3 separate regions of the Homo sapiens genome follow, and all the other regions are reported to be linked to region 1. The links are microRNA targets in miRTarBase. Many come from high-throughput screens and were not tested one by one. Region 1 holds a microRNA gene; each other region holds the end of a gene's coding sequence.
What was found. Region 1 holds the annotated microRNA hsa-miR-342-5p (AGGGGUGCUAUCUGUGAUUGA, at 1,843-1,863, shown strand). A microRNA usually pairs through its seed, bases 2 to 8, with sites in the 3' UTR of a target mRNA and lowers its output. Matches are read on the target gene's strand: a 7mer-m8 pairs with bases 2 to 8, a 7mer-A1 pairs with bases 2 to 7 and ends in A, and an 8mer does both.

Region 2: miRTarBase lists SETBP1 as a target of hsa-miR-342-5p. Seed matches in the 3' UTR shown: 7mer-A1 at 2,608-2,614.
Region 3: miRTarBase lists CYP2W1 as a target of hsa-miR-342-5p. Seed matches in the 3' UTR shown: 7mer-A1 at 372-378 and 7mer-m8 at 710-716.

Annotation. Positions count from the first base shown.
Region 1 is chr14:100,107,831-100,111,985 of GRCh38, forward strand. MIR342 (microRNA 342) reads left to right here and starts at 1,825; the gene lies at 1,825-1,923. The region is part of intron 3 of EVL (Enah/Vasp-like); the gene reads left to right. It overlaps MIR151B (microRNA 151b), which reads right to left and starts at 1,684; the gene lies at 1,589-1,684.
Region 2 is chr18:45,063,302-45,067,456 of GRCh38, forward strand. It overlaps SETBP1 (SET binding protein 1), which reads left to right. Exons shown (of 6, transcript NM_015559.3): 6 at 1-4,155. The coding sequence ends at 397. Among named protein-coding and RNA genes, the nearest start is that of MIR4319, 95 kb to the left of the region's middle.
Region 3 is chr7:988,524-992,677 of GRCh38, forward strand. CYP2W1 (cytochrome P450 family 2 subfamily W member 1) reads left to right here. Exons shown (of 9, transcript NM_017781.3): 9 at 112-1,117. The coding sequence ends at 299. It also overlaps a transcript of CHLSN not described here. Among named protein-coding and RNA genes, the nearest start is that of CYP2W1, 7.4 kb to the left of the region's middle. RefSeq lists an enhancer at 244-844.

The sequences.
Region 1 (4,155 bases):
CCACCAAGGTATACCAGGGTCCTCGCCCTGATGCAACCAGAGTAGTTCTTCATCGACTTTATACAGTGGGACTCTGAAGAAAAGAAAAAGGAAAACCCCATAGCTTAGTGGGAATCCGGGCGAATTAAAACACAGGATGAAGTGCTTGTTCTCTTTGGCTCTTGGAGCATAATGTATGTCCTTTTCCTACTTGGTTTGCGTGTAATAACATCATTGGTATATTTCAAAATATGAAGCTCCTGGTGCTGGATAATAAATGTTTTCCCAGTTTTTCAACCTCTTATGTCCTTCATTGATGCCCAGTGGCCCAGGGGCTGCACCTTCAGCACAGTGTTGAGAAAGAGCCCCGGAAAGGGACTTACAGGCAGACCTTCCCGGGAAGAGTCAGGCCCAGCTCCATGTGCTCTTTGGAGGGGAGTGGAAGGTTGTTAAACCTCATAGCTCTTGGAGGTGGGGCTGAATTTTGCTTCTTGTAAACCTCTTTCCATTGGAAATTACCTCTTTCTCCCCTAAAGAGAAGGAAGTACTGGACTGTCTTCATCTCCCTGGCTGCCGAGGCCATTTGACACCTTGTGCCACCTGAGAGAAAGCAGGCCCAGCATGGCCCTGCCTGAGGGGAACAGGACGGCAAGCCCCTGGCCTCCTGCCTGCTCCCAGCTGCCCTCTGGCGGCCACTTTCTGAAAGCCGGATATGTCTCTTTGCTGACCCACCCCTGTTCTCACCCCAGGGCTCCAGATGTTGTATCAGGCAGGGCCTTTGTACGCCTCCATGCCAACAGCTACCCAAGTCGCACCGTCAGTCACACTCTTACTCAGGCTCTCCTGTGCCCCTGGCCCTTCTTCCCCTCTCACTTTTCCCCACACTTCTAAAATCTCACTCGTCCTGTCAGAATGTGGCTCCACAGATGGAGCCTTTCCCAGCCGCCCCGCTCCCTGTGACTTTGCACTCCCTCCTGCACTCCCACGGGGCTTTATTTTTGCCTCTGTCCTAACAGTCAGCTGCCACTTGGCCTGTCCTGCTATTCCCACTGCATGAATCTAGTCAGGTTGGAAATTCAGAAAGTGGCCTCTTTGTCTCTGGACCCCAAAAACCCACACATCGTCTGCCTTATAAGCTCTCAGTATATCCATCCCTGGCTGCAGGAACACACCAGGACCCAGAGGCTGCCGTGCCTGGAGCCCTGTCTCCTGACTCAGCCCAGGCCCCAGCTCAGCATCGAGGTCCTGTGGGACCATGTCCAGCAGTGAAGGCTGTGCATTGGCCTGAGCCCCTGGTCCCTCTGACTCACTGGCTCCCATTTTCACCACCTGCACTGCATATTCTCACCGTCTCTCCCCTGACACTCTCTCCCCTGAAGTGTTGTAATGGGGTTGTAACCCATCCACCTTCTCTTGTCCTTCTTCAGTCTGTCCTCCCTGGGCTGCGTCTAAAGGGGCCCCGCCCCTGCCCTCATGCATGTTCTCTCCATACTCCTGGTCACCTTCTGCTCATCCTTTGCCCTGCTGTTGTGAAGCCTTCCCAGTGCCCCAGAAGACCTCAGGCACCCCTTCCCAGTCCTCGCACACTGTTGGTGTCCCATTTGTTTGGACCCTGGGTTTGTTTGTCTAGACTGTGAGCTCCTCGAGGGCAGGTGTCTGTTTCTGTGTCTCGGGAGCCCTGAAGAGAGACTGACACATCAGAGGTGTCTGGTGACTGAACAAGCTCCCAGCTTGCGCCCATGTCATATTGTGTGCCTCTCATAGCCTGGCACTTCCTGCCATTGCATCCTTCTCTGCAGACTAAGATGGAGTTCCTGAACCAAGACCGCTTGCTGGCCAACCTGTGAAACTGGGCTCAAGGTGAGGGGTGCTATCTGTGATTGAGGGACATGGTTAATGGAATTGTCTCACACAGAAATCGCACCCGTCACCTTGGCCTACTTATCACCACCCCAAACAGAGGAACACGCCTTCTCCAGCCACAGCCTATGGAAGGGCCTTCAGCTGCTGTGGCCCCGAGGTGTGCATACTGTGGAAGGAACTTCGGACGTGAACTCGGATCTGGTTCCAGTACCAGCTGTGCCAGGAGTGTGCCCTTGGGCATGTCACTGACCTAAGACTCAGTTTCGCCATCTGTGAAATGGCTGAATCAGACTCACCTCACAGGGTTGTTGTGAGGGTACCATGAGATGATGTTTGTAAACATTCTTTGTCACCTCTAAATTACTATAACAGTTTGAAGTTACTCTTTTTAAAAAAATTATTTGCAAAGGTAACTAACAATATCAGCCGTGCACAGTGGCTCATGCCTGTAATCCCAGCACTTTAGGAGGTCAGGGGATCACTTCAGTGTGAGAGTTCGAGACCTGCCTGGTCAACATAGCAAGACCCTTGTCTCTACAAAAGCATTAAAAATTAGCTAAGTGTGATGGCGTGTGCCTGTGGTCCCAGCTACTCAGGAGGCTGGGGTAGCAGAATTGCTTGAGCCCTGGAGTCTGAGGCTGCAGTGAGCCATGGTTACACCACTGCACTTCAGCCTGGGCAACAGAGCAAGACGCTGTCTCAGGAAAAAAAAAAAAAGGTAACTAACAATATCAACTCCTGTGTGGTGCCAGCAGCCATCACGTTGGGACACAGAGGGAAGCCAGGCTTCTTGGATCCTGATGGTCAGAGAACACTTTCTGAGGGAAGCGGGGCTTGAACCTGGGCCCTGCAGGGCTGGGGGTGAATGGGGGGATCTGATGAGGAGGAGGACGGCGGCACCAGCAGATCTTGGTGGTTTGGAAGTTCAAATCAAGATCTGAGAAGAGGCTCTGTCTGACCCTGGGGGTCTCCCTCGGCACATTGGTAGTACTGTGCATGCCTCACGGGTGCCCCTAATTTCAGAGCATCCCACCTGCATCCTGCTGCTGCCATTGTCCTCCTCAAAAGAGCTGCTGGCTTATTGCAGTTTACATCCTAGAGAAGAGAGGTCTCCTCCTTCCACCAGTCCCAGGATTATCTCCCTAACGCTAATGGCGAGATTCCTTTGGAGTTTTAGTCTTCTGTAGATACAGCCCAGGCGCCATGTGCCCAGTCAGGGTTTGAGATAGGTGGTGGTTCATTCCCCAGCCTTGCCTCACCAGCACCTTCCTGACGCCTCCTGGTAGGGCTCAGGAAGCAGCCAGCTGAGGTGTGCCTGCCATGGTCAGCACAGTGGTTGACAGAAGTGGCACAGATTGTGGGGGCAGGTGACAGGGTACCATGCCCTAGCTCCAGGCACCCGCTCCACCCTGTCACATGGAGCAGCTGTGAAACCTTGAGCAAGCCATTTCACCATTCTAAGCCTTAGTGTCCTCATTTTTTTTTTTTTTTTTTTTTTTTTGTGATAGAGTCTAGCTCTTGTTGCCCAGGCCGGAGTGCAGTGGTGCAAACTCAGCTCACTGCAACCTCTGCCTCCCAGGTTCAAGCGATTCTCCTGCCTCAGCCTCCCAAGTAGCTGGGACTACAGGCATGCGCCACCACGCCCGGCTAATTTTTGTATTTTTAGTAGAGACAGGGTTTCACCATGTTGGCCAGGCTGGTCTTGAACTCCTGACCTCTGGTGATCCACCCACCTCGGCCTCCCAAAGTGCTGGGATTACAGGTGTGAGCCACCGTGCCCGGCCAGTTTCCTTGTCTTTAAAATGGGTGTGACAACCACCTCACAGAGTTGTCATGAGGCTCAAATGATAAAATAGATGGGACTGTGATTTGTAAGCATATGGCACAGTGAATGCAAGTTGTTCCTGGAGTGCCCAATCCCTAGATACTGGGATCTCACCCCTCAGTCGTAGCCAGAGTCATTTCATTCTGGTGTGCCACCACCCAGAGCTAAGCCGTATACTCCTTACAGAAAGGAACAAACCCCTTCCTGGATGCTCTTGTGCCTGGATCTTGGCTCCCTGAGATTGCAGGGAGATAGCAGGAATTACTTTCTCCATTTTAAGAAGGAAGAAACAAAGGCTCACAGTGCTAAGAAACTTGCCCCAGGCCACTCTGGTGAATGCAGAGCTTAAGGCCCAGAGCCCAGATGTTCTGATTTCCAGTCCAGGTCTCTGCCCAGTGGACCAGACTGCCTCTCAAAAGACCCTGCTCAGCTGGCAGCCCCCCAGCTTTCTAAACTATAACCCGGCTTGGTCAGAGGTTGATTATTAT
Region 2 (4,155 bases), not on the chromosome of region 1:
TGAGGACTCCAGAGACCAAATGCCGGTGCTGGAAAAATGCATCGACCTGCCCAGCAAAAGAGGCCAGAAGCCCAGCCTGAGCCCGCTGGTGCTGGAGCCCGCCGCCAGCCAAGACACCATCATGGCCACCATCGAGGCGGTCATCCACATGGCCCGGGAGGCGCCGCCCCTGCCCCCGCCACCGCCGCCGCCCCTGCCGCCACCGCCGCCACCACCCCTGCCCCCGCCACCCCCTCTACCCAAGACCCCCCGAGGCGGAAAGAGGAAACACAAACCGCAGGCCCCCGCTCAGCCCCCACAGCAGTCGCCCCCGCAGCAGCCCCTTCCCCAGGAAGAGGAGGTGAAAGCCAAAAGGCAGAGGAAGTCCCGAGGGAGTGAGAGCGAGGTCCTTCCCTAGGGCGGGTCTGGGCGTCTGCACCTGGGGCCTAGGGAACTGACACGTGGGAAGCGCAGTGAGCCGGGGCGGGGGCGGAATCCCCCGCTGCAGGGACACCCACGCCCTTCTCTCCAGAAGCCGGGCAGGCAGAATCCGGCCAGACGACGGGGCTGAGCCATCAGGAGCTCTTGGGAAAGCAAAGCAGGGAGACACCTTCAGAAGAAGCTTGTCTGAGCTTCACCGCAGCTCCCACCACGCGGCGCTTCAGTACGGCTGGATCCTCCGCAGGCGAGCGGAAGGCCCCCAGGAGGAGCAGGCTGGTGGCACTCTCCTGACCTCACGCTGCCAAGGTGCGCCCTCGACTCCCGATTTCATTTGCTGGCCAGGAAAATCGAAAGGGAAACACCCTCAATTAGGAAACATTCCAAGGGGAGAAAAGCTGCAAATTGCTCAACTGGCATTGCTGTAACCCGTTCCATTTAATTGGTTTTTATTTCTTTTGATTTTCAAGCTCTGCTAAGCTTTGGGGTACCAACGTCATCTTCAGGTGACCTGAATCTTTCCCTTAACCGTACAGTTTCTCGATGGAATTGTGTGATCAGAAGGTGGAATTCTAGTGATAGGCGACCTCAGACCCGCATTCATGTTCTGTGTGCCTCTTCTATTGCACATACACTGATTTTTAGCATTGTCTATTCCTATTTTTCCTTTGCCCATTGTACTTCCATATATCTTTTCATTAACTTACTTGCTGCCTTTTTTTTTTCTTGGTACACATTTAAATAAAGTAATCCTTAACCTGTGCTGTAAAGTTCACCCTTGGCATGCTGTTCCAAGAACCTGGGTTTGAATCCCAATCGTTGTGAAACATACTCAGTATTGATAAAACCTTTTTAATAAGTGATGCAGAGCAGCCAAGGATATGTTGACCCAGATGTCAACCAGGCTATTTTTATACTTAAAACATGTCAGCAGAGCATAGGCAGAATAAAATGGTTTAAATACCCCACAGCAAATAGAGTAACTGACAAACCACCAAAAACTGAAACCCCAGACCCACCAGAAAGACAAGTGTCTAGCAATGCCTTGGTACCTGATCTTTTTCATTCAAATAATTGTCATAGGTTGTTCAAAAAAAAAAAAAAAAAGGAAACAAAAACACAATAGAAGTCCATTATCCCTTGATAATTATTTCTTAAAAGCAAATGGGAGTAAGTGTTCTTATCTGGAAAAATAAATAAATAAAATGCTCAAAGGGTATCACCACTTCAATTTTATCAAGCCACCTTGGACAAAGTATCCAAATTGTGGTTGCCTTAATAAACTAAAACATTATTGTACATAATGTAATTATAAATCTATCAGTCTGCATGGATGCAAACTGTGTGTGACAAATCGTCTTTTAAATGGTCAATTTCAGCTGTACATTTCTCATCCAAGTTGTACTCTAGCCATTGGTTTAGCGTGGACAGATACTCCATCTCTATTATCCATTTCCACAGCCCAAATAAAATATGTTAAGCAGGCTCAGAATGAATATGAAGAATTCCATTTCCGTAGATGTTTTCTAAAAGTCAGATTGTGGAAATTTCAAATAAGTATTTTCAATTTCCTCCCTCACTCCCTCTTACCTTCCCCAAGACATCAAACACCTGGCATGGTAGATTATAGAAAGAGACACTGAGAGAGAGAATTAAATTTTCTAATGGGAATTAGAATATCTGGTTTACCTCCAAATTAAGTTTCTTTACAGGAAGTTGGGACCAGCTGGAAATTGTATTATCATTTCGGAACACAATATTACTTCCTTAGAGAGAGATGGATTTTTGTTGGCAACATAAAAGAATAAGTGATGGGGTATCTATGTGAGTAAATTTTTAAATTCCAAGTTAATATGCTTGCAAACATTACTGCTGCGTTATGGCACCAAGAGTTGGTTGAAATTACCCACGTAGTCATACTCCTGTGCTCTGTCACCATGGACTTCACATCATTTGCTGCCCACTAGTTCAATCGCATTTAATCCTAGCAATATGTAAGTTTAAAGGACTGCATTCCCCTCTACTTTAAAGCTTATATCCTAGATACTCAGTTTGTGACCTTGGTTGACCTTTGGCATTTCACGCAAGTTGAACAGCAAAATCAAAGCAGCCATTTTTAATTCGTCATTCCCAAGCCCTATCTGAGTGGTTCCAAAGTCACCTGAGAGGAAGGTTTAAATTAGTCCCTCTCACCCCACCATTGCTATAAAACAGCAACGTTTTCATTCCAATTCAGCCATAAAGAGGTTTCTCTTCTTACTGGGTTTTGAAATCATTTCCTTTTTTCTTTCGTTTGCCCTTCTTCCTTCCTGTGTTGTACTATCTCTCCAACCACGTCTATAAGCAGACTCAATCTTCTTGCAGAGGAAGATGAGCTGGCACTCTGCAAACTTCTTTAATAAGGACCCAAAGTTTACTTGACATTAACCTCTAGTAGGTGAGAAATTCCAAAAAAGCTTTGGGGTACATTAGAATTTCCAAAGCTCTGAAAGATATTTCAGGAGATTTAACAGCAGAGTTGCAACTTACACGTGAATTCTGGTCTATAGTGGTCATGTGAGTTAAATTCGAATCCTCTACTTGTATGACCCTAGGAATAGATTGGAATACTGCAGAGGACCAAAGCTGAGGCATGCTAAACAGCTGCTTGGAGGTGGAAGCAAGTTCAGTCACCTACTCAGCTTCCTCTCTCCACCACCCAGTTCCTCCCTCAGTATCACATTATTTTTTTCTTCTGCTTTTCATTAACCTAACTCATCTCATCAGTACAACCATTTTCTTATTCTCTAACTACCCCCAATTCCTTTAGCCTCTCCCCACCTGTCCAAACTCAGCTCAGCCGTGGGCCAATGCAGCTTACAGACGGTTGCAGAGCTAGGAAGAAAACCCAGCTCTCCCAACCCTGATCGTGGAGGTCTCTGGCCCCCCAACACTGCCTTCTGGGGGCTGCATTTTTTTTTTTTTTTTGAGAAGAGGTCTTTTGGGATGCATGGTGCTCCACATACAGCTTCACAAAATATTTCATTATAAGAGAAACCCCTTGATTTTTATTTCTTTTTCTTTTGTTTTCTGGATTACCTGCCTTCAGTAAGCAGATGCAGACCCACTTGTAAGGAGTCTGGTTAGTGATGAGAAAAGGATGAAATCTAGATACAAAAGTCACCTTGAAGGTGATGATGGATCTTTAATCCACTTGACTAAGTGTCTGGAAGAGCTACTTGCTCTTCCACCCCTCATCTCAAATGAGAGGAGCAGAAGTTTAACTTCCTCAAATAGCCCAGCTCTGGCTAAAACCCAAAGAAGAAAGGTCAAAGGAAGGGAAAGCATGTCAGGGGCTGGTTTGTGACTTGGCAGGACCAGGAAACAGCAGCCACTGACAGCCCAGAGAAGGTGACTAAGGGCTGGCAGAAGATTAGAATGTTAATTTGGCTGCTGTCCGGACTAGGAGGCCATGTTCAATGGCAGTCAGAATTTGTGTTCTGCGCATTGCTGGGTCTATAAATATGATAAGCAAGTGGTGACAGAATTATAGTATAAGGTGATGTACTACATGCAGATCATAAAGGCTTTGGTTTTAAGACTTAAGTAGAAAATCCCTCTCCTAGCTTATTACCCAACAATATTCAGATAATGAGCTTTTGGAGAATATCTTTTTCCTATCACTAGAAAGATTTACCTGGGAACTGTCTAAAGTCTACACACATATTTCCAAAGCCTTTAAATACCAACTGCAGCATG
Region 3 (4,154 bases), not on the chromosome of region 1:
TCTGAAGGCGGCTGTGGTGGCTGCTCCTGTGCTCCCCTGGGGAGGTCCCCACCCCTCCCCTCCAGGAGCAGGCCTGGTGCAGCCCACTCTGTGCCTGGACATCCCCCGCAGGCCGCCGCGTCTGTGTTGGGGAGCGCCTGGCCAGGACCGAGCTCTTCCTGCTGTTTGCCGGCCTCCTGCAGAGGTACCGCCTGCTGCCCCCGCCTGGCGTCAGTCCGGCCTCCCTGGACACCACGCCCGCCCGGGCTTTTACCATGAGGCCGAGGGCCCAGGCCCTGTGTGCGGTGCCCAGGCCCTAGGAGCTCCCCCAGCCCCCAGGTCCTCCTGACCACTCCCCTCCCAGCCCTGGGTCCTCCCACCCTCTCTCCTCCCACCCCACAGCTCGGACTGCTCTGGGAGGGCCCTGAGGACTCCCACCCTCACCCCCACCCCCACAGGGTCAGCAACTGCTTCCGGTTACACCCAGGACTACCCCTGCCCGACCCTGTGGGACCCCCACCCCTCTGATGCTGTCTGCAGCTCAGTCCCTGCCAGCCCCCAGGAGCGCCTCCAGGGCCCCGCCCACTCTCCCACCCCTGAAGCTGCACTCCCACCCACCTAGCTCCCCCCAGGGCCCCCCAGCACCTACAGCTGGGGCTGCAGGGAGACAACGGGTGGCTGCATCCAGCCAGAGACAGGCGCAGGTGGGTGTCCTCAGCGTGCGAGCCCTGCACCCCCCAGGTCCTGGGACTCCTGCAGACCCCACTCCATTCCCGCTCCTGGAACACTTCCTGCAGCTGTGCCTGGAGGCAGTCGGCCTGCAGTGCCAGACTCTGAGCCAAGCCACTGGGGCCATGCGTATGACTGGTGCAGGGAGGCAAGGCCCACATTCTCCTTCAGAGACAGGCACTGGCGCCAGAGGCTTCCTTGGGGCGGGGGGAGGGCACCTCAGCCCCTGAAGACAAGCAGCACTGCAGTGGCAAAAATGGAAACACTGACCCGGTGCGGTGGCTCATGCCTGTAATCCCAGCACTTTGGGAGGCCGAGGCAGGCGAATCACGAGGTCAGGAGTTCGAGACCAGCCTGCCCAACATGGTGAAACCCTGTCTCTACTAAAAATACAAAAAAATTAACCGAGCATGGTGGCACGTGCCTGTAATCCCAGCTACTCAGGAGGCTGAGACAGGAGAATCGCTTGAACTGGGAGGCAGAGGTTGCAGTGAGCCGAGTTCGCACCACTGCACTCCAGCCTGGGTGACAGAGCGAGATTCCATCTCAAACAAACAGAAGGAAATGTCGAGCCACACAGTGGCACATGTGCTGGGGGCGGTGTGGTCGGCAGTGTGACAGTGGCACGTGTGCTGGGGGCGGTGTGGTCGGCAGTGTGAGTGGCGCGTGTGCTGGTGGCGGTGTGGTCGGCAGTGTGAGTGGCACCTGTGCTGGTGGTGGCGTGGTCGGCAGTGTGAGTGGCGCGTGTGCTGGGGGCGGTGTGGTCGGCAGTGTGAGTGGCGCGTGTGCTGGGGGCGGTGTGGTCGGCAGTGTGAGTGGCGCGTGTGCTGGGGGCGGTGTGGTCGGCAGTGTGAGTGGCGCGTGTGCTGGGGGCGGTGTGGTCGGCAGTGTGAGTGGCGCGTGTGCTGGGGGCGGTGTGGTCGGCAGTGTGAGTGGCGCGTGTGCTGGGGGCGGTGTGGTCGGCAGTGTGACAGTGGCGCGTGTGCTGGGGGTGGTGTGGTCGGCAGTGTGACAGTGGCGCGTGTGCTGGGGGCGGTGTGGTCGGCAGTGTGACAGTGGCGCGTGTGCTGGGGGTGGTGTGGTCGGCAGTGTGACAGTGGCGCGTGTGCTGGGGGCGGTGTGGTCGGCAGTGTGACAGTGGCGCGTGTGCTGGGGGCGGTGTGATGGGACACCTGCTGTCTGAGACGGCCCTGGCCCCCGTCCCAGCGCTGACCATGCACGTGAGCGGCAGGCGGCCCCTCACCGAGAAGAGAGGATAAGCCGTGGCACATTCCCACCTGCGCCACGTGAAGCGGCGCCCCAAGGCCAGGACGTGGTGGCCGGGACACACGGGTGCACGGCAGGCCTCACACTCCCAGGTGGGGCCGCAGGGTCCCTAAGTCATGGGTGGGGCTGCTGCTACGGAGGCTGCTGCAAGGACGAGAAGGGGACGGAGGGATGGAGGCTCGGCTGCGTCCGCTCACCTATTTCTGGGGAAGAGCAGGGAGCGAGTGCTGGCTTCACTATTCTCCCCTCAGACATTTGAAATATGACACTGAAAACTTGAAGGGCAGAAAGAACGGGGTCCTGGCGCCAGGTGGGGCCACGCGACGCCCCGCCCAGTGTGACTGGTGAGCCCCTCTGGAGCTCTGGAGGGTGCGGAACATTCCAGGGCAGGGGCTGTGGAAAATCCCTCCCAGCTGTTGTCAGGGCTCCCGGGTGGGGTGGAGGACTCAGGCCCAGCCCTCCCAACCCTACAGGGGACCCTTGTGCCCCCAACTTAGTCGGCCTCCTGGGTGGGGTGAAGGACTCAGGCCCCGCCCTCCCGGCCCTGCAGGGGACCCTCGGGCCCCCGCCTTACATTGGCCTGGGGTATTCATCTCCTTGGGCCCAGGGGAGCCCGAGGCCCACGTGGGGAGGAAACGCTGACCCTGTCCCGCCCCGCTTCATGGAGGCCCAGCCGACATGAGGGACACCAAGTACAGGGTGATGAGTGACGGCTGAGCTTCCCCTCAAAGCACTAAGACAATAAACATAACCCCAACCCCAACCCTGACCCCGCTCGCCCGACTCACGCGACCTCTCACCCCATCTCACCCAGCGAGATGACAGGGCTCCTCCACGGGGTACAGCCAGGGCCCCCCAAGTTAGGCGGTCCAAATGCCTCATCCTCAAGTGTAAACAAGCCTAGCTTAGTGAAAACAGAGTAAGCAGGTATCAAATCTCCTTTAACTCATGCCCATGGGCGTGGGCAGGGGTGTGGGGCGGGCAGGAGGGAAGGGGGGGGCCGAGTGAGACCCGAACCCCGGAGGTGCCACCTTCTCGACCGGGCAGACCTGGGTGCCCGTTTCTCACAGCTGCACTCAGGCTGCCGGCCAGGTGCACAGGCACGTCCCGGGGGCTTGCTGGGAAATGCCGGGGCTTGGCACGGATGGGACAGGCCACTGTCTACGCCTCATTTCCAAGTGTTTCTTTGTTGCTATTTTTAAAAATGGTGATAAAATACACGTAGAGAAAATTCACCATCAGCCATGTTGAAGTGCACAGTTCAGGGGCACAGGCACATTCACGGCCACCACTGTCACCTCCAGAGCCTCCTCATCTTCCCGGGCTGAAGCCCTGCTTGCGTTAAACACCCACTCCGAGTCCCTCCCCAGTCCTTCTCCTTCCTGGTCTGTGGGTGTGAGGGCTCTGGGGACCTCGAGTGAGTGGGGAGTGGTGGATTTGTCCTGCTTTATCCACGCACCTGCCAATGGGTCCTTTTCAAGGGTCCCAGAGAACTCAGGCAGCAGGCAGCCCGCGAGCCCAGCTTCCTCACGCATGGATTTCGGGAGATGCCTCTGTGGACATCCACCCCATGGTGCCCAGATGTCATGGGAGAGGCAGACACCCCGAACCCCATGGCTCACGACGTGGCTGAACTGCTCCCCGGACGTCTGTCCTCAGCAGCAGGAGGGACGCCGACCCCGGCCCCTGTACCCCCCCGCCTCTAGGTCTCCAGGGAAGGACCCTCCTGGGGTGGGCAGGCTGCTCTTGGCCCCAGATCTGCTTCTGGGTCTGAGGCTGGCCCTCAGCCGTGCTGCACGTGCCTCCCATTACCATCCTAAGTCAAGGCAAAACAAAACCACACAGTCCCCGAGCCATCTGCAAACCTCCCGCAGCAAGCTCGGAGGGTGAGGCCCCCCCACAGTAAGCTCGGAGGGTGAGGCCATCTGAGTGCCGGGCTGGCCGGGCTTAGGAGGAGACCAAGCTTTACCCACGGAGACGCCGTTTAATGGAACCCAAGTGACCCAAGGGAGCTGCCACGCCACCGCTCAACCACACCCACAGGGAACACACATGTAGGGGCCTGGGGCCTTGTCCAGTGCGGGGGTCCTGGTTCAGATGTCCTGAAGCTCCTCCCTCGGAGTGGGCAGCCCCCATTAGGAAACTTCTGGAACCCAGAGGCTGGAAGCCGGCCTCACTCT